6 linked regions of the Homo sapiens genome follow. The protein of the gene in region 3 purifies or fractionates together with the protein of the main gene of each other region. This does not show direct contact. Each region holds a gene or a part of one and is shown on either strand. Other genes may lie near its edges. The genes, in order: NMT2, GOSR1, CHURC1, NMT1, GLRX and ACTR3.

Region 1 (3,500 bases), on a different chromosome or scaffold from region 3:
TCACTTACCTTTTCAGAATCTGTACCTGGACACCTCCAATTGTACAGGTAATACTGCAAATTGCCATCTCCTATACCAAACTTGAGTTTTTCCAAGAATGTCTTATTTTCCATCAAATCCAGTGCATTGAATACATCAAATCCTTTCTGCCAATTTAAAAAAGATTTAAAATTTAAAACAAAGGACTAGTGTTTTCTGTATTACATATCTCAGTTTAACAATTCTACTAATAGCTCGAATATGCATTTCTAATAGGATTTAACGTCCGTGATATATAGCATAGGTTAAGAATTCAGGGCCGGATGCTGTGGCTCATGCCTATAATCCCAGCACTTTGGTAGGCTGAGGTGGGTGGATCACTTGAGGTCAGGAGTTCGAGACCAGCCTGACCAACATGGCGAAACCCCATCTCTACTAAAAATAACAAAAATAAGCCAGATGTGGTGGCGCACACCTGCAGTCCCAGCTACTCAGGAGGCTGAGGCAGGAGAACTGCTTGAGCCTGGGAGGTAGAGGTGGCAGTGAGCCGAGATTGTGCCACGGCACTCCAGCCTGAGCGACAGAGTGAGACTTTTTTTTTTTCTTTCTTTAAAAAGAGGAAGAATTCAGTTGAAAATTGTCTTATAAAACTAGCAGTGTGGCTGGATGTGGTGGCTCACGCCTGTAATCCCAGCACTTTGGGAGGCCAAGGTGGGAGGCTCACTGGAGCCCAGGAATTTGAAACCAGCCTGGGCATAGGCTGTAGGTATAGGTGTAGGTGTAGGTACAGGACATTGTCTCTACAAAAATAAAAAGATTGACTCGGCATGGTGGTGTGTGCCTGTGGACCCAGCTACACAGGAGGCTGAGGCAGGATTGCATAAGCCGAAGAGGTCGAGGCTGCAGTGAGCTGTGATTGTGCCAGTGCACTTAAACCTGAGCAACAGAGTGAGCGCCTGTCTCAAAAAACAAACAAACTATAGTGAATCCAATGAAGTCAGCATGAAAATTCAGAAACGCTGAATCCCAAAAATGTTAAAAATGTAGTATGATGGCTGTCACTGGCATAAAATTACTTATGAAGATTTCAGAAAATATTTTATTTATGTTTTATTTATTTATTTTTAAATTTTTTTGAGATGGAGTCTCACTCTGTCATCCAGGCTGGAATACAGTGGCATGATGTCGGCTCACTGCAACCTCCACCTCCCAGATTTAAGCAATTCTCCTGCCTCAAACTTCCTAGTAGCTGGCATTACAGGTGTGCACCTCCATGCCCAGCTAATTTCTTTGTATTTTTAGTAGAGACCGGGTTTCACCGTGTTGGCCAGGCTGGTCTTGAACTCCGACCTCAAGTGATCCACCTGCCTTGGCCTTCCAAAGTGCTGGGATTACAGGCATGAGCCACTGCACCCAGCCTCGTTCTTGTTTTAGAAGGGAACAGTTGTCAAGATGGTTTCATCTCCAGGATTATTAATTATTAGCCTTTCTAAGTCCTACCTTGGCTGAAGCTATTGCCCAGGGACCAAAGTTGTAAAGACTTTAAATAGTATGCAGGCCGGGCGTGGTGGCTCACGCCTGTAATCCCCGCACTTTGGGAGGCCGCAGCAGGTGGATCACCTGAGGTCAGGAGTTCGAGACCAGCCGGGTCAATATGATGAAACCCTGTCTCTACTAAAAATACAAAAATTAGCCAGGTGTGGTGGCACACACCTATAGTCCCAGCTACTCTGGAGGCTGAGACAAGAGAATCACTTGAACATGGGAAGCAGAGGTTGCAGTGAGCCGAGACTGTGCCACTGCACTCCAGCCTGGGTAACACAGCAAGACTCATCTCAAAAAAAAAAAAAAAAAAAAAAGTATAAAAAAATAGTATGTTTGCTTTGGGCTGATAATGGGAAATATATTTATGTAAAATTTTAATGGTAAAAAATTAAATTTCTTTAAAATGTCAGACAATAATACTATGCAAAATGTGATATAGAAGAAGCACTTTTTATTTTTATTTCTCAGGGTTTTTACCTTAAATAACTAATTACTGGCCATATTTGGGAAGTGTTGAAAAAAAGCAGACAATCTGAGGATGATGTTGACTTGGGGATCCAAAGGCACAGGTAAGAGATTTTTATTTTATTTTATTTTAATTAATTAATTAATTTGAGACAGGGTCTCACTCTGTGGCCCAGGCTGGAATGCAATGGTGCAATCTCGGCTCACTGCAACCGCCAACTCCCAGGTTCAAGTAATCCTCTTGCCTCAGCCTCCCGAGTAGCTGGGATTACAGGTGTGTGCTATCACACCCTGCTAATTTTTGTATTTTTAGTAGAGACAGGGTTTCACCATGTAGACTGGCTACAATTAAATTTTGAATTTCATTCCTTTAATTTTAAAATTCAGAGACTATTTGGTTGAATAAAAAAATTGCTGCTAGTTATTCACTCAACAAAAATATTCACTCATGTATTAATATTTTCCTTATATTACTTCCTAAGATATGGGCTTTATATATATATATATATATATATATATATATATATATATATATTTTTTTTTTTTTTTTTTTTTTTTTTTTTTTTTTTGAGACAGTTTCTGTCACCCAGGCTGGAGTGCAGTGGTGCAATCTCAGCTCCATTGCAACCTCTGCCTCCCAGGTTCAAGCAATTCTCCTGCCTCAGCCTCCCGAGTAGCTGGGATTACAGGCACACACCACGAAGCCTGGCTAACTTTTGTATTTTTAGTAGAGACGAGGTTTCACCATATTAACCAGGCTGGTCTTAAACTCCTAACCTCAGGTGATCCACCCATCTCGGCCTCCCAAAGTGTTGGGATTACAAGCCTGAGCCACCATGCCCAGCCTTATATATTCTTATATAAGGATTAAACATTTATAATTTGTACATTTTGTCTTTTTTGTTAAACTGCCATAAAATTAATGATGAAAATAGCCTCTAAAGTTTCAAAAGAAACTCTTATCAAAATTCTTCCTTTGACTGATGATCAATAGTTTTTTTAAAGTCTCGCATAAATTCCACCTGTGTGGAAGAAAACACAGTAAGATGTCTTCTATAGTTTGGCACAGACATTTGGAGAACCAAACGGCGTGAACAGGAAGGAGTGGCTTACCGATTTAGCCAGGATGAGCGCGTCGCTCATGAGGTCCAGCAGGGGCGTCTCTGTGTGGATGTTGTAGAATGAGTAGGCGGCTTTGAGGCTCTTGTGAGCAGGGTGGTGCATCACCGTGGAGGGGAGCGTATAGAAGCTCAGGAAATCAGTCAGTTTACCGTTGGGGCTCTAGGAGCAAAAGTGCTGTCAGACAGAGATCTCCTTGAACCAACTGCATACGTGCATTTCCACTAACTCTGTTCTCTCCCTTGCCCCAGAGAACGAAAAGCAGTAAGTCACACTTCTTTCTCGGCAGTCCAATTTGGGGCCCCTTATATTGTGCTGTGTAGAGGCCAAGAAGGGCCTGGAGTTGGGACTTCAGCCTAAGTGCCCATTGGTGATTTGCACAAAGTTCTTAG
Region 2 (3,500 bases), on a different chromosome or scaffold from region 3:
ATCAAGTCTTATTTAGAAAGTCCTTTCTGCTCCAAAGTTTACAAATTTCACCTCTGCTTTATGGTTTCTTTTTCTATCCTTCTTGGATCCATTTGGAATTTGTTCTGGATGTGAGGATTGAGATAGAATTGTTTTTTTAAAATCTCTGAATAATTAAGCAATGGTTATAGTTCCATTTATTTTATAATTTCTCTTTGCCCCACTGATTTTAAACAACATCTTTATCAGAAACTAAAAATTTCCAAACATAATTGGGTCTACATATAAACTCTGTTTAATTGTTTTTATTTATTTATTTTTTTTCTCTAGTATCAAACTGTCTTAACTATTCCAGCTTTTTAACAGGTTTTAAGATCTGGTAGAACTAGGAACCCTCTACCACTTATCTTCATTTTCAGGTTGTTTTTCTTGGTTGTTCTTGTATGTCTATGATTCCAAATGAACTTTGGTGTCATTATGTCATTTGTTTTTAATTAAACAAACAACGATACAACCCTGCTGTTTCCACTGGGATGTCATGCAATTTAGACGAAAGTCTTCCTATCCAAAAACAGAATGATTCTTTCCTTTACTTAAATCTTGTTCTATGTCCCTCAGTAGAATTCTGCACATACAAGTCCTACACATTTCTTATTTAATTCATATATAAATGCTTTATAGTTTCTTCCATTGTATTTTCTAACAGGTTATCATTTATTTCCTATCATAATAGGAAAACTATTTGCTTTTATGTATTCATTTTGTGATCTACCATCTTACTGAATTTAATTGTTTCTAACTTTTTATCAGGTAATTTTCTTGCGTGTACTAGACATATAATTTTATCCTGCTACCTCACAGAAATTTTGCCTCTTCCTTTCCAATATTTACATCTTTTTTTTTTTTTTTGAAACAGTCACTCTGTTGCCCAGGCTGGAGTGCAGTGGTGCAATCTCGGCTCACTGCAACCTCCACCTCCCAGGTTCAATGTTCAAGCTATTCTCCTGCCTCAGCCTCCCAAGTAGCTGGGATAACAGGCACCCACCACCACGCCCCGCTAATTTTTGTATTTTTAGTAGAGAAGGGGTTTCACCCTGCTGGCCAGGCTGGTCTCCAACTCCTGACCTCAAATGATCCGCCCACCTCAGACCTCCAAAGTGCTTGGATAAGAGGTGTGAGCCACCATGCCCAGCATACATTTCATTTCTTTTTACTGTCTAATTGCACCATCAAGAACTTAAAAAACAACGTTATACATTTGTAGCGATCATGGGTATCCTTGTCTTGTTTCATACAATGGGAATGTTTTTATTGCTTTCTCTTTAAACACAATGCTAGCTTTTAACCCGATAATACATTTTTGTATTAAAGTATCTTTCTATTCCTACTTTTTTTTTTTTTTTTTTTTTAGATGGAGTCTCAGTCTTGTAGCCTAGGCTGGAGTGCAGTGGTGCAATCTCAGCTCACTGCAACCTCCGCCTCCTGGGTTCAAGCTTCTCCTGCCTCAGCCTCACAAGTAGCTGGGATTACAGGCGCCCACCACTATGCCCAGCTTATTTTTATACTTTTAGTAGAGACAGGGTTTCGCCATGTTGGCCAGGCTGGTCTCCAACTCCTGACCTCAGGTGATCCACCTGCCTTGGCCTCCCAAAGTGCTGGGATTACAGGCACGAGCCACTGCGCCCGGCCATCTATTCCTACTTTTAAAAACAGTTTTTAAAATTAGAAATAGTTGCTGACTTTTCTCAATATTAAAAATATTTGTGGCTGGGTACAGCGGCTCATGCCTATAATTCTAGCACTTTGGAAGGCTGAGGGGGTGGATTGCCCATACACAGGAGTTAAGAGAACAGCCTGGGCAACATAGCAAAAACCTGTGAACACAGGAGTTAAGAGACCAGCCTGGGCAATATAGCAAAACCTCGTGAACACAGGAGTTAGAGACCAGCCTGGGAAACATGGCAAGGACCTGTCTCTGCAAAAGCTTTTAAAAAATTAGCCAGGCGTGGTGGCATGTGCTTGTGGTCCCAGATGCTCAGGACGCTGAGGTAGGAGGCTTGTTTGAGCTTGGGAGGTTGAGGCTGCAGTGAGCTGTGACTGTACTACTGCACTCCAGCCTGAGTGACAGAGAAACCCTATCTCAAAAAAAAAAAAAAAATTGCCTTCCTATTTGTACTACCATATTTTTAACATATCCTCCATTTAAATCTTTAAAAGTTTATTTAGTTTTATTGGTGCATACACATTTACTGTTTTCTTAAACAATATACTAAGTATAGTAAATAATTCCCCCTCCATATTATCTTCAAAGCTAGCTGAAAGTACACGCTTACCCACCACGTTATTGTCTATACATGACCATTGGCTATTTCACTGTTACAGCTAGCTAGCTAGGTCTCCCATAGTGGAAGTATATGTACCCAGTGATGAATATTACTCAACTTCGCCAAGAAATAGCAAGAGCTATTAGATATTTTCAGAATTTTATAATGGTGACCCCAAAAAAAAGTAAAACAAGTCCCTTTAGCATGGCATTTATTTTCTCAGATTTTTCTCTTTGTCCTTTTAAATATATGTGCACATATCCAATGCAGGGATTAAAAAAAAAAAAACCCAAACTCCTGTGATAATGAAAACATCTCGAGCCCAATATATTACCTGCAATATGTCTCTATGCCGCTGTAATGTATGCATCAGGGCTGCATTCAAGGAGGGGACACCTGCACTGTTGGTATATTCTGCCATTTTATCATTTACCCCTGTAAGCTAGAAATAAAGAAAAAAAAAACAATCAAAATATTTTACTAAGCACTATAAACAGCTAAAAGCAAATTATTTGCCTATATGCCCTTTTGGTTGACAGCAAAACAAAACAAAACAAAACAAAACAAAAAACAAACAAGAGAGCAAGTAAGAATTCAGCATTCCCCCACATAATCCATAAAGACCAAAATAACATCATATCACCTGAGAATGGCTGTCATCAAAATTCAAGTGGTGTGGGGAGGTACACATATTGAATGGAATGGATAATTTCAATAAACATGTCTGTCTCAATATAATCCAGGATCCTACGTAACAAGTATACAGTTATTTGCAAAATAGCCATTTAACAGAAAGCACTTACCCTTGCCAAAAGTTGTTCAATCTCAATCGCCATTGTCTCAAACATTCTGTCTTGGCTTGATCCATTTAAAAGGGGTGTTGTATCAGAACTAAAAAGAAGTTCAGTTAAAGAGGATCCATTACTCAAATCAGTCCTTTAAAACATACTTAAAATAATAAGGTGATTAATAGGAGCCATAAAATGAATTATGGATTATGTTATATAGGGTCTGTGAGAAACGATCTTTTACATTTTTACCCCAAAGGAATTATGGTTCCTTCAACCTCAACATTACATTCTCTCTTCTTTCCTTGACTCTTACCAAGAGGAAATAAGATTGAGGTTTAAATGATCCACAGATTGGATAACTAGCTAACGAATACTCAGGAACTGGCTTTAAATCCAATATATACAG
Region 3 (3,500 bases):
ACTAACTATAAAAACTATAGTAATCAAGAGAGTTTGATATTAGTGGGAAGGTAGATATATGTATCAAGGGAACAGAATAGTCAAAGCAGACCCACATATATATGGTCATTGACTTTTTTCTACAAAAGCACCATTGTAATTCAGTGGGGGGAAAGACAGTTCTTCAACAAATCTTGCCAAAACAACTGGAAATCCATACGCAACTAAATAAACCTTGATCCTTACCTCATATATAAAATTATTTCAAAATGGATTATAAACCTAAATCTACAAACTAAAAGCTATAAAACTTCTAGAAAAAAATGTAAGAAACTTTGTGCAACCCTGGGGTAGGCAGAGATGTCTTAGGAGAAAAAAAGTATAAATTATAAAAGAAAAAATGTTAAATTGGACTTTATGAAAATCAAAACTTGTTTGCTCATTAGAAGAAACCATCAAAAAAGGCAAATCAATGACGGAGAAAATATATTTGGGAAAAAACTTGTATCTAAGATATATAAAGAACTCTTACAACTCAAAATAAACAACCTAACTTTTTGAAAATGGGCAAAAGACTTGAATGGACATTTCATAAAAGAAGATACATGAATAAGCACCATGAAAAGATGCTCAACATCATTAGTCATCAAGGAAACAAAAGTTAAAACTACAATGAGATACCACTTTACGTCACTGAATGGCAAAAATAAAAAGCAGTACCTAGTATTGATGTAGCTATAGAGCAACTGGAACTCACACATTGCTGGCAGGAATGTAAATTGGAAAACCATTTGGCAGTTTCTTGTAAAGTTAAATATACCATATTTTTACCATATTAGCAATTCCACTTCTACATATTTACCCAAGGGAAAGGAAGACATGTATCCATCCAAGACTTGCACATGAATCTCTATAGCTGCTTTATTCATAATAGCCCCAAATGGAAACAACCCAAATATCTACCAACAGCTGAATCCTACAGGGAATACTATTTGGCAATGAAAAGCAACAAACTACCAGTACCTAGAACAACAGTGATGATGAACATAGGCATTATATCGAGCAAGGAAAATTGGATGCGGGAGTATACTGATTCTGTTTATATAAAATTCTAGAACGTGCAAGACTGGAGATGGAAATCAGATCAGTGGGTGTCTGGGGTGGGATGGAGGTTAGAGATAGACTGAAAAGCATGAAGGAACTTTTTGGGGTGGATAGAAATGTTTTATACCTTCACTAGGGTAGTGGTTACATGGGTATATACATTGGTTAAAAGTCATTCACCTATGTATACCCTTACAGTGTGTGAATTTTATTGTATGTAAATTGTACCTCAGTAGATTTTATTAAAAAAAAAATCAAAGGCTGGGCACAGTGGCTCATTCCTGTAATCCCAGCACTTTGGGAGGCCGAGACGGGCAGATCACGAGGTCAGGAGATCGAGACCATCCTGGCTAGCATAGTGAAACCCCATCTCTACTAAAAATACGAAAAATTAGCAGGGCGTGGTGGCGGGCACCTGTAGTCCCAGCTACTTGGGAAGCTGAAGCAGGAGAATGGCATGAACCTGGGAGGTGGAGCTTGCAGTGAGCCGAGAGTGTGCCACTGCACTTCAGCCTGGGTGACAGAGCGAGACTCCGTCTCAAAAAAAAAAAAAAAAAAAAAAAATCAAAGCAAAGCATTTGTTCTTAATAACTGGAAATGTATACTTTAATCCTAAGGCCCTTTTCCCTTTTAGTAGTTAAGGCAGTACACCTATGATTTAATAACTATGTAGTAATGTCTTGATTTCTCCCACTAGAATTAATGTCTTCCTCAATACATAGAAGGGAGAGATTCCTCAATATATAGAAGGGAGAGATTAATTCTCCCACCAGAATTAATCTCTTCCTCAATACATAGAAGGGAGAGATTAATTCTGGTGCTTGGAATCCAGAAAGACTTCCTAGTGGCATTATTTATGGTGGATCTTAATTTCGCTGATGCTTCTTAAAACTCCTTGAAGGTAGCAACATGTTTGGCTCATCTTTGAATCCTCTGTTGTGCTTTGCACAATATCAGACACAGATGCACTGGAGAAACGTTGATTTGAGTGATTTTTAATCACATTATTTAAAAATACTCTTTAAGTGTGTTGCTGAGAAATGGGATTGGACTAGATTATTTATAAAGTGACTTTTAATTATTAATTATTAGCCTTTAGCAAAGACTTCCTTTGGGTCGGGGACGGTGGCTCACAACTGTAATCCCAATACTTGGGAGGCTGAGGTGGGAAGATCATTTGAGCCCAGGAGTTTGAGACCAGCCTGGGCAACATAGCAAGACCCCATCTCAATTACCAAAAAAAAAAAAAAGGCTTCCTTTGAGCCAGGAGCATAAGTTATTTAGAATTTCTTTTTTAAAAACTTTTTTTGAAAATTTGTATAGTTTCTTAGTAAAGATGTAAAACCCATTCTCTCTTAAATGCCATTGTGTCAGTCTTACGAAATGAAGAACTTAAGCTTCTCTGCCTCAATCATGTGTATCCTTAAGGACTGACATCTATAGAGCTGAGAGTTTACTTTTGTTTATTTTGTATTATGATCAAGGATCAAAACTATTTGAACAAACAACTAAACATCTATGTAAGATCATCTTTATCATTGACTCAGTTTCTATTTTGATTGAATTTAATTTTAGTTGGTAAGCCTCGTTTAATATTGTTGGTTATTAAATTTTTCTAATTTTCTATTTTCATATTTTATATTAAGGTTTCCTTAAGTTGTTTCTAAATATCTATTTTCAGTTTATCCTCCCTTTTCAACATAGTGGCAGTCCTTACAGACTTAAGGATCTAACACTGCACTTTAGTTGCTTTTTTTTTTTTTTTTTTTTTAACATGAGTAACACTTCTTTAGGAAAGCTAGTAATTTCAAAAATTATTTGGTATATGACCTAGAAGTAAATGCTGGCCATTTTTTAGTTTTGTTTTGCCTTTAGACATTTTAAGTCTGTTAATCATCTTCACTAAAGATTTTGAAATGTAAAGAAATTAAATTCCTGTTTCTGATATTTTAGGGTAATACCTGCCTGGAGAATGGATCTTTCTTACTGAACTTTACAGGCTGTGCAGTGTGCAGTAAGCGGGATTTTATGCTGATCACAAACAAATCCTTGAAAGAAGAAGATGGAGAAGAAATAGTTACCTATGATCGTAAGTAGACTTTATTTTTTAACCTGAGTGTGTTAGCAGGTGTCAGCTTTTGGAAGTCGATATGTTACACAAAATATTCTGAGGCCTATTTCAATATTGTATTGCGCACATAATTACTAGTTAGGTCTTTAAGAGGAAAATGTCATTAACACCTCATTTATCTGGGATATCAAATAGTCTATGTAAATGACTTTTGCAGATAACTAAAGCTTACGATTCAGGAACTGAATTTTTTTTGTTTATCAAATTATTTTTCACGGACATATTTTTAAAAGCTTTATGCTGCCTTAACAAGATATACTTTTTATTATTGTTATTATTGTGACCT
Region 4 (3,500 bases), on a different chromosome or scaffold from region 3:
CTTTGAAGCAGCTCTTGATTAGTTTCTTTTTAATTGCCATTTAATTGGGAAACAAAATTAGAACACTTATTTGATATCAGTGATGAGGTTTCTCTTTCCATTCTGCTTTGATCTAGTTTTGAAAAACCAAAAGTTGAAGGGAGAAATTAAAAAGGAACTAAAAAGATTTCTTATTTCCAAGAGCTAGCTGCAGCTATAAGCCATCAAATAAATAGGGAAAGAACGACTCTTGGAGAAGCTGAAGAAAAAAACAAAAACAAGTAAGGCTAGCTTTATGGAATTTATTTTCAGAAAGACTTTTCTCTCCTCCTAAGTTTTCATAAGGGATAGTATCTCACAACCAGGAAATGAGGAGAACTTATAAAGAATCCATGTTAACCTGTCCCAGGGAGTAAGAGAGCAGGATGGAGATGAGACACCTCTTGTCAGAGGGCTCTTGACCCGTGCTTACCAGGATCTCAATGACACTGAAGACACTGCAAAATAAATTCCGAAAGATTCCTAGAACACAATAGTCTAAAAGTTCTTTTTTGTTCCAAAACACTCAGACAATCTTCACTTATTACCCCCAAATTAAAATCTGCCAACTGATGAGATTTATTCTTTGGCAATACTTCTTGGAAAGACTCTCATTAAAAAAAAAAAAAAATCAAATTAAACCATATAGATGAATCACGAACTACAGGGGGATGCTGCATAAAGGTTATCTTATCTGACTCTCCTCTCAATTGTTCAGGATAATTACGCTAGGCACGTAACTGGGGGAAATTGAGTGCAGTAAAAAAACAAACAAAACCAGCTGGATGCAGGAGCTTATGCCCACAATCCCAGCAGTTTGGGAGGCCAAGGTGGCAGCATCACTTGAGGCCAGCAGTTTGAGACCAGCCTGGGCTAAATAGTGAGACCCCATCTCTACAGAAACTTTTTAAAAAGAAAATTAGCCAGGGATGATGGTGCATGTCTACAATCCTAGCTACTTGGGAGGCTGAGGTGGGAGGATCGCTTGAGCCCAGGTCAAAGGCTGCAGTAAGCCATGATCACACCACTGTACTATAGCCTGGACGACAGAGCGAGGCCCTGTTTCCAAAGTAATAACAATAATTTTAAAATTAAATTAAAAAATTTTTAAATAGAAAAACTGAAGAGACGCACCCATACACACTGCATATGTATGCATGTATACCTATATGTATACATGAAGGGTTTGGGTTTTTTTGTTTTTATTTATAGAGATGGGGTCTCACCATGTTGCCCAGGCTGGTCTCGAACTCCTGAGCTCAAGTGATTTTTCTGCCTCAGCCTCCCAAAGTGCTGAGATTACAGGCATGAGCCACTACACACAACCACATGAAGTTTTATATTCACCAAATGTTTATGCTGATTTAATTACGGAGGAAACACAAGACCAGAAAAGTCAAGAACTAAATTCATATACAAAGAGACATAAGTAACTAATACAACTGGCCGGGCGTGGTGGCTCACACCTGTAATCCTAGCACTTTCGGAGGCCAAGGCAGGTGGATTGCCTGAGCTCAGGAGTTCAAGACCAGCCTGGGCAACAACGGTGAAACCCCGTCTCTACTAAAATATGAAAAATTAGCCGGGTGTGGCAGTGTGCTCCTGTAGTCCCAGCTACTCAGGAGGCTGAGGCAGGAGAATTTCTTGAACCCGGGAGGCAGAGGTTGCAGTGAGCCAAGATCGCGCCACAGCACTCCAGCCCGGGCAACAGAATCCAGTACATGAATTTAGCTCATTTTATTAGCATAGAGTACTATGACTTTAGTTCCTGAAAAAAAGGGGCAGGAGGCTGGGTGTGGTGGCTCATGCTTACAATCCCAGCACTTTGGGAGGCTAAGGCAGGAGGATCACTTGAACCCAGGAGTTTGAGACTAGTCTGAGCAACATAGCGAGACACAGTCTCTTTAAAAAAAAAAAAAGGCCCAGGAGAATAAGGGTTAGCTCGAACTATCATTAACCTTTATTATATATTACACATTTTAGACTCTCTAGCATTGAAAGGAAAACTTCTCTGTCAATTTTTACATGATTTTTGAGAACATTTTAAATAATATTAAGACAAAAAACATTTCAAGAAGCAAAACACAGTGGAAAGCACACAACAGTGGAAAGCTCCACAGCAAATTGGAGCTTCCTGGTTTCTGTAGGTATTTCTTTTTTTTTTTTTTTTTTTTTGAGACAGAGTCTGGCTCTGTCGCCCAGGCTGGAGTGCAATGGCGCAATCTCGGCTCACTGCAAGCTCCGCCTCACAGGGTCACACCATTCTCCTGCCTCAGCCTCCCGAGTAGCTGGGACTACAGGCATGCGCCACCACACCTGGCTAATTTTTTGTATTTTTATTAGAGATGGGGTTTCACTGTGTTAGCCAGGATGGTCTCGATCTCCTGACCTCATGATCCCGCCCGCCTTAGCCTCCCAAAGTGCTGGGATTACAGGTGTGAGCCACCATGCCCTGCCTCTGTAGGTATTTCATAAAAACTGTAGTGAGGCTTACAATGAGAATTATTTGGGGAGAGAAAATGTGTATGTAAGAAAAATCTGACATCCTCTCACTTGGTGAGGGGAGATGAAACTCCACTAATACTGGGCTAGGCACTTTAATATCTGCCATTCATTCATACAGCAAATACTCATTAATGCCCACTAAGTGCTAGGCATTTCGAAGACACAATCCTGTTTACATGCTCCTTACTGTCAGATGAGACAGGTACCAGACACATTAAGAAAAATTACCAAACATGTAGTTATATTTATTGTTATTATAACTATTGTTACGATAAAAGCTACAATACAGTATGTGATAAGAGCAGAGGGGCAAGCTGGGAGGTTAGGGACGATCTGAAGAAAGAGGAGGAGGGAGGAAAAGGAGTGCATTCCAGATGTTATCTCATTAATCCCTACAACTCTGAGTTAAGTACCTTTCCCAAGGTCACAGGACTGTTAAGTGTCAGAGCCAAGCTTTGAGATGAGATTTTGAGATCAGAGGCTTGCTCTGTCGCCCAGGCTGGAGTGCACTGGAGAGATCTCAGCTCAGTGCAACCTCTGCCTCCTGTTTTCAAGTGATTCTCCTGCCTCAGCCTCCTAAGTAGCTAGGATTACAGGCGCCTGCCATCATGCCCAGCTAATTTTTGTATTTTTAGTAGAGATGAGGTTTCACTATGCTGGCCAGGCTGGTCTCAAACTCCTGACCACAAGCGATCTGCCCACCTCAGCCTCCCAAAGTGCTGGGATTACAGATGTGCGCCACCGCGCCTGGCCTCAGACCAGATTTAAATTATTCCAAAGTCCATGCTTTTCTACTGTGCCGTGCTGCATTTTCCCACATTGCTGCTTCTCCCCAAAACCATTTCCTCTCAAAGTTCATGGAAAAATGTTGACTCTACCCCAGATTCTTAGTGCCAGAATTAGACTCTCTCCTCCAGACTAGGCCCTTGGTTTTTCACCTACTACCTCCAAACTCATTTTCACAGATCTTTAGATTT
Region 5 (3,189 bases), on a different chromosome or scaffold from region 3:
AGCCGCGTCAGCAGTTCCCCACTCTGTTGCAAAGAGACTAGATCACTGCATCCGCCTATACAATCTTTACCAATAAAGACTCGAGGCACCTAAAAAAGCACACGACCCAGGACATTACTACATTACTAGATTAGACAGAACATTTCTATCCTACCACTAAATATTTCCCGTGATTCCAAACTTTTCAAATCACTTTAAAACCTCCTTATGTATATGCTCACAGGACAGGACTTCCTTTCTGTTATAAGGGGTAACATTATTAACTCGAGAATGTTTTTACGCCAGAAGAGTTTTCAAGTTGTGTGCTATGCATGAGCTTGTCCAACTTGTCAAAGGGATTTAAAAATTTCACTCTACAGAAACATGTTTCAGAAGGAGAATTCTGATTGGCTGCAGTCAGACCACCTAGATTGAACTCTGCTTTCTCTGCATCAGGGACCACACCTAAGATTGTAAACTGGGTCACAGCAATCAGGAAGGAAGGAGTTCGTTTCTAAATACAGCTGGAAAAGTATTTGCATTACGTCTCTGATTTTTCAGGTCCATGGTTTATTAAGTACAATCATCTCTCTGTGTTGTTAAAACACAGGTGAGGGCCAGGCACAGTGGCTCATGAATGTAATCCTACTACTTTTGTGAGGCTGAGGTGGGAGGGTCGCTTGAGCCCAGGAGTTCAAGACTAGCCTAGGTAACATCGTGAGACCCCGTCTCTACAAAAAATACAAAAATTAGCCAGGCATGGCGGTGCATGCCTGTAGTCCCAGCTACTCAGGAGGCTGAAGTGGAAGGATTGCTTTGGCCCGGGAGGTCGAGGCTGCAGTAAGCTGTGATGGTGCCATTGCACTCACACCTGGACGACAGAGCAAAACAAAGAAAGCAAAACAAAGCAACACAAGTGAGCTCTGTCCTCAACCAGGGGGGTGTAGTGGTGTTTGAGTCTCCTTTAATCGCTGGTCCATCATAAGATGGTTAACTCACCCCGGATGAGGGTGCGTCACCCACGCCAAGCCACAGTCATGACACCTGCTGAATAGGCTCCTCTCTAGTTACACACTTCCTCCCTGCTGCTAGGAGCAGACACATTCCAGAATTCCAGAGGGCTTTTAGAATCGCGAGGGAGGAGGAAATACCCTCAACGTGGCTGAATTTATAGGCCAGGAGTGTTCCACCAAGGCTGCCTGGCAGTGAAGAAAAAAGCCCCATGGAGGTCACCGCGTCATCAGAGCCAGCGGGCCTCTCCCCGAGTACCAGGAACGCACTGGAGGGGAGGGAGAGGTGGAGGCAGAAAGCAATGAGACTATTTTTCAAAGCTTTGGGCTTTCCTCAGAAAGCATAATAATTGGAGCAAATTGTCCAAAAAGTGAGAAAGGTGAGAAAAGGGGCTTCATTATTGTGGATAAGTTCTTACAGCACTTTTATTAAAAAGGGGGTCTGGGTGAAGGTAGGCATTAAAAATAAAGTCTAAAAATTAAAAACAAATCTTGCACATTTCCATGGCTATTCCCTGTGCTCTCACAGGATAACTGAGGCTTTGAAAACCCACAGCCCTGGAGCTGCCCCCCAGCCTCCTGAGATGACCCTGAAATGTGACCAGGCTGCTCCCAGCGTGGAGTTTTGTGCTCAGTGTCTGGCAAAGAAGCGAAAGGCTCCTTTACCCTCACACCCATCCTCTAGTCTGGACAACTGCAAAACTGCCATAAATCGTATCAGTGAATGGTACCCCTAACGGGAGCTGAATGGCAGGCTGTACAGACGGCACGGGGGTGCTGTGGCAGTGAAACCAAAGCAAGAAGTACTGTTGATAAAGTTGAGCAAAGAAGAGGAAATACCCTGTGCTGCTTCCCCTCCTGTCCCTTCCCGTCCCAGCCTCCTCTTTAGAGGAACTTGAGAGTCCGCTACTGTCAAGGAGAGGAAAGAACTGCCACCCCAAAACGAGTTTGGTAATCCTGTGGTTCTTATTCTCCTGCACTAGGTTTCCCCAGCCTCAGCCAGGCAACATCTCCTGTACGCTAGCTAGGGTTACACAAATGCAACTACTCAAAAGCAATTTCTCAACACTCCTCGGCTACCTCCCTGGTATAAGCCACCTTCATCTGTCACCTGAATAACTACTATAGCCTCCCAATGTCTCCCAGCTTCAACCTTCACCTTTGCCCTACTGTCTCTTCTCCCCACAGCTGCCAGAGTGGCCCTTTCAAAATGGGGTCAGATCAAGTGACTCGTCTGCTCAGCACCCACCAGGGGCATCTCATCTCACACCGAGTACCAGTCACAGTTCTTCCAAGCTCCTATTAGCTCTCAGACCTCACCTCCACTAACTCTCCTACTGGCTCACAGTGCTGCAACTATACTGGCTTCCTTACTATTCCACAAACCTGCCAGGCAAACGTCTACCCCAGGACCTTTGCATTCACTCTACCTGTAAATTGTGTACACCCATCTCCCTCAGCTCCTATAGATATCTGCTCGAATGTTCCCTTCTCAGTGAGACCCAATGGCTCCATTTAAAACTGGACCCTGATGCTTCCTCCCTACCTTTCCTACTTTTCCTCATAGCACGTGCCACTTACCAACTCCCAACATACTGTTTTATTACTGTATTTGTTTGTCTCCCCCACTAGAATATAGGTTCAACAAAGGCAGAAGGGTTTTTTTCATGGCAGAAAAGGCAGAATTTTTTCCCCAATGTACATAAAAGTGTCTGGTACATAGTAGGTGCTTAAAAATATTTGTTGCATCCAGTAAAATCATCATTCAAATGCGAAGGAGAAATACTTTCTAAGGTAAACAAAACTTGAGGGAATGTGTTACCAATGGAATCACCTTGCAAGAAATGCCCAAAGAAGTTCTTCAGAGAGAAGGGAAATGATATAGTTCAGAAACTCAGATCTATGTAAAGAAAAGTGCATTAGAGGAGAAATAAATGAAGGCACTAATTTAGGAGCTGTGACTATAGCAAAACAAAAACAGGTTTTACCAAGTACATGGCTTGATTGAAGCCACTAACTTTCCATAATCATGTCCTGCTGATTACCTACTAGATACAGCTACTTTATAGAATAATTAAGACTGCAGGATCAGGCCGGGCGCCGTGGCTCACGCCTGTAATCCCAGCACTTTGGGAGGCTGAGGCGGGTGGATCACGAGGTCAGGAGATTGAGACCATCCTGGCTAACACAGTGAAAACCC
Region 6 (3,500 bases), on a different chromosome or scaffold from region 3:
ACAGACATTGCCTGATGCATTAAACACTGGAGTGAGAATAAAAAAAAAAAAAAGTTCAAAATAATGTAAATCCTTAAGTGATATTCATTATAATATAAAAATTACTTTAAAAGATAAACCTTTCTCTATATACCCATTTAATAATAAACAGTATGAATTCTAGTAGTCATTTTGAATTCATTAGGCATAATTTTTTTAAAACTTGATGTATCATTAAGAACTGAAGCACAACGGCCTTGGAAGAAAAATGTTATTTCTGACAATCTAATTTGATGCATTTTTCTTAATATGCTTTATTAAGTACAAACCATAAAGCATCTACTAAAGTTCAGGTACTTAAAACTAACTGTTATACAGTTACCCTGTACACCAGTCTGAAATCTGTTAATTATGAATAAAAGAGGTCATCAAATGGCTAACACACATCCAACTGGAAAACAGAATGAAAGCCATTAATATACTTCCATTCCAGATATTGCAATTTGTAATTTTCTTAATTGCAGTACAAACCTACAGTAAAAGAAACATTTTGAATTGTTTATAAAAGTTTTAAACGGTGAGCAAAACATAGCTATAACTGGACAAATGGCCAAATTATAGTGCAGCATTTAAAGTTTTTTAAAAGTAACATTAATTCGTATAATTTAACTTTGCCAGATGTGTTATTTCATGTTCTGTTCAGTAACTGTAAAATAGCCTTACCACAGGAATGACATGAGTGACACCATCTCCACTGTCTATTACCGTACCGGTCAACGTCCGTTCTCCTACTTGTCTTGAGGTCCAAGATGCAGCTAAGGCAAGAACAGCCTTGAGCACAAAGAAAGAAGAAAGGCAAAAAAACAAAAAAAAAAAACAAAAAAACAAAGAGTTAATCGAAAAAAAAAAAACTAGTTCCCTGGAGTACTTTATTCAATTTTAAATGTAGTATCTGTGGAAAGAAAATACATAAAATTAATTTTGTATTATGCAATAAAATAGCTCACTCCCTACATTTTATTAAGACAAACTTAGAGGTTTACATTTGCTTTTAGGAGCATGATTTGTAAGATTTACATATTTTATAAAGGCTATTTCTGTCCTAAAGCTAAAAATGTGGAAGATTGCATTAAACAGTACAGAACTAACTGTCTGTAATCCCAGCACTTTGGGAGGCCGAGGCGGGCAGATCACGAGGTCAGGAGATCGAGACCTTCCTGGCTAACACGGGGAAACCCCGTCTCTACTAAAAAATACAAAAACTTAGCCAGGTGCGGTGGCGGGCGCCTGTAGTCCCAGCTACTCAGGAGGCTGAGGCAGGAGAATGGCGTGAACCCGGGAGGCGGAGCTTGCAATGAGCCGAGATCATGCCACTGTACTCCAGACTGAGCGACAGAGCAAGACTCCATCTCAAAAAAAAAAAAAAAAAAAATTGTATAGAACTAACTTGCCAGAACTTAAACTATGTCCACGTGGGCTGGCCTGTTACAAACTGCAATGTAAGGCAGAAAGTACACAACCACCCTACCTCCAGTTATTCAATACATATATGGCTATAAACAACTATTACTAAAAGATTACCTTCTTTTTCTTTTTTTCTTTGAGACAGAGTTTCTTTCTGTCACCCAGGCTGGAATGCAGTGGCACGATCTCGGCTCACCGCAATCTCCGCCTCTTGGGTTCAAGCAATTCTCTGCCTCAGCCTCCGGAGTAGCTGGGATTACAGGTGCCCACCACCACACCCGGCTAATTTTTGTATTTTCAGTAGAGACGGGGTTTCACCATCTCAGCCAGGCTGATCTTGAACTCCTGACCTTGTGATTCACCTGCCTCAGCCTGCCAAAGTGCTGGGATTATAGGCATGAGCCACTGTGCCAGGCCTACCTTCAAATTTTTTTAAGGTAACATGTGTTTAGGACTATATGACATACAGAAAACGCCATCGCACACCTCCAAATACTACTATGATTTAATTATGGAGCAACGTTGATAAAATTTTTCTATGAAAAACCTTGGTACAGACAATACAACACAATTCTTTTTTAAGTGTGAGAATTAAGAAATTAACATAGTTCATTTTTTAAAAAACTAAATTTCTTACAATCCAAGCCTCAAACAAAGTATATGACTAGTAATTAAAAACAACTAAACTTATACTGGACTTATTTTACCTACCTGGACTGTAATAGCTAAAAGGGACCTAGAAAGCTATCTAGGTCACCCTCCTATCTGAACACAAGATCATATTAACACAATCACCACATAATCACTATAGGCTAACAGAACTATACATTATTTTTTGACAATCTTAAAATGAAAAATTCCATCCTAATACTAGTTATATATATATATACTGTTTAGACTTCATTATGAGATATCCTTCCTCTATAAGTAAGTTCAAAACTATCATCTACAACCAAGAATTATCTCTGATCACTTTTACAAGTCTTTTGTAAACAGTTACGGTCCCAAACTAGAATAGATATGTATCAGCACATCATGTTACAGAAATGTTATTGACTACTGAACATCAACAAAACAGAACAGAGATTAAATAATGAAATTAAGAGCACTCAGAGGCCACTAAGGAAATCACTGAAAAACCAAATTACGACTCCAGAGGAATGAAACAAAGCTCATGATGCCAGTGTTTTAAAGTAAGCTTTACCTGACAATATGGTTAAACATAAGTTTATTATATTTAACATAGGATGAGAAGCAAAAACTCCCAAGTGAAAGATGAATTTTCCCAACTCCTCATTTTATTCATATTCTAAGAACTAAAAAAGGGCCTCCCACTCAAGACTGAATTCTTCTATAAAGTTCATGACAGGTTTAAGTGACTCCTTAAATATTTTTAGCAGCAGAGAATTTAAAAGGCAGTTCATTAAATTTATGGATTGCATTAAACATTAAAAAGTTCTTTGCTATCCAAGTTAAAATATTCATCCATAATTATCACTTATTGATTCTGTGTACCGTGGAGTTACAAAAACCAGTGTGATCCCAAGAAAGAGCAAAGTCAGACAGACCTCAGCTGCCTGGTATCACAGCTAACCATTTAATTATGAATAAAGTGCCTTCCAGCTTTAGTTTTCTTCCTCCACAAAAAACAGAAACAAAAATATCTACATTTAATAGAAATAATGAATTAATACACATATAAAGCATTTGTGTTATGTCAGGGATTACCTCTGCTACAAGGGAAAAAAAAAAAAAATGAGGTCAGCTCTGATCCTGAGGGGTGGGAGAGAAGCTGTTCCATACAGATAAACGTACAAATTAAGAGAAGTGAAATATTAGGGTGTCAAATATACCTAAAGATAAGTCAATCAAAAAAGACTACAATAAAGGACAAAAAGATTTATAAGGATAAATGATAAAGGATTATTTACAAGGATAAATATATATACAATGTTCTTGTCACAGAGAAAGCATTCCATAAATATTAGTTCCTTCATTTCTGTCCTATGAAAGCCCTTGAAATACCCAAACACCACTAACTTACTTTTTTAACACTT

The links.
Region 1: the proteins of CHURC1 (region 3) and NMT2 purify together in Homo sapiens (affinity purification with mass spectrometry; one large-scale study listed by BioGRID and IntAct). This does not show direct contact.
Region 2: the proteins of CHURC1 (region 3) and GOSR1 purify together in Homo sapiens (co-immunoprecipitation; one large-scale study listed by IntAct). This does not show direct contact.
Region 4: the proteins of CHURC1 (region 3) and NMT1 purify together in Homo sapiens (affinity purification with mass spectrometry; one large-scale study listed by BioGRID and IntAct). This does not show direct contact.
Region 5: the proteins of CHURC1 (region 3) and GLRX purify together in Homo sapiens (affinity purification with mass spectrometry; one large-scale study listed by BioGRID and IntAct). This does not show direct contact.
Region 6: the proteins of CHURC1 (region 3) and ACTR3 purify together in Homo sapiens (affinity purification with mass spectrometry; 2 studies listed by BioGRID and IntAct, with this or other methods). This does not show direct contact.

Annotation. Positions count from the first base shown.
Region 1 is NC_000010.11:15,109,694-15,113,193, forward strand, and holds part of NMT2 (glycylpeptide N-tetradecanoyltransferase 2), read right to left. Parts: intron 3,271-3,500; coding exon 3,103-3,270; intron 2,094-3,102; exon of another isoform or gene 1,835-2,093; intron 147-1,834; coding exon 9-146; intron 1-8.
Region 2 is NC_000017.11:30,483,908-30,487,407, reverse strand, and holds part of GOSR1 (Golgi SNAP receptor complex member 1), read right to left. Parts: intron 3,195-3,500; coding exon 3,107-3,194; intron 2,746-3,106; coding exon 2,638-2,745; intron 1-2,637. UniProt on the Homo sapiens protein: Involved in transport from the ER to the Golgi apparatus as well as in intra-Golgi transport. It belongs to a super-family of proteins called t-SNAREs or soluble NSF (N-ethylmaleimide-sensitive factor) attachment protein receptor.
Region 3 is NC_000014.9:64,920,955-64,924,454, forward strand, and holds part of CHURC1 (protein Churchill), read left to right. Parts: intron 1-3,036; coding exon 3,037-3,172; intron 3,173-3,500. Other genes in the region: CHURC1-FNTB protein, read left to right, coding at 3,037-3,172. UniProt on the Homo sapiens protein: Transcriptional activator that mediates FGF signaling during neural development. Plays a role in the regulation of cell movement.
Region 4 is NC_000017.11:45,064,317-45,067,816, reverse strand, and holds part of NMT1 (glycylpeptide N-tetradecanoyltransferase 1), read right to left. Parts: intron 1-3,500.
Region 5 is NC_000005.10:95,816,538-95,819,726, forward strand, and holds part of GLRX (glutaredoxin-1), read right to left. Parts: intron 90-3,189; coding exon 1-89. UniProt on the Homo sapiens protein: Has a glutathione-disulfide oxidoreductase activity in the presence of NADPH and glutathione reductase. Reduces low molecular weight disulfides and proteins.
Region 6 is NC_000002.12:113,931,589-113,935,088, reverse strand, and holds part of ACTR3 (actin-related protein 3), read right to left. Parts: intron 811-3,500; coding exon 703-810; intron 1-702. UniProt on the Homo sapiens protein: ATP-binding component of the Arp2/3 complex, a multiprotein complex that mediates actin polymerization upon stimulation by nucleation-promoting factor (NPF).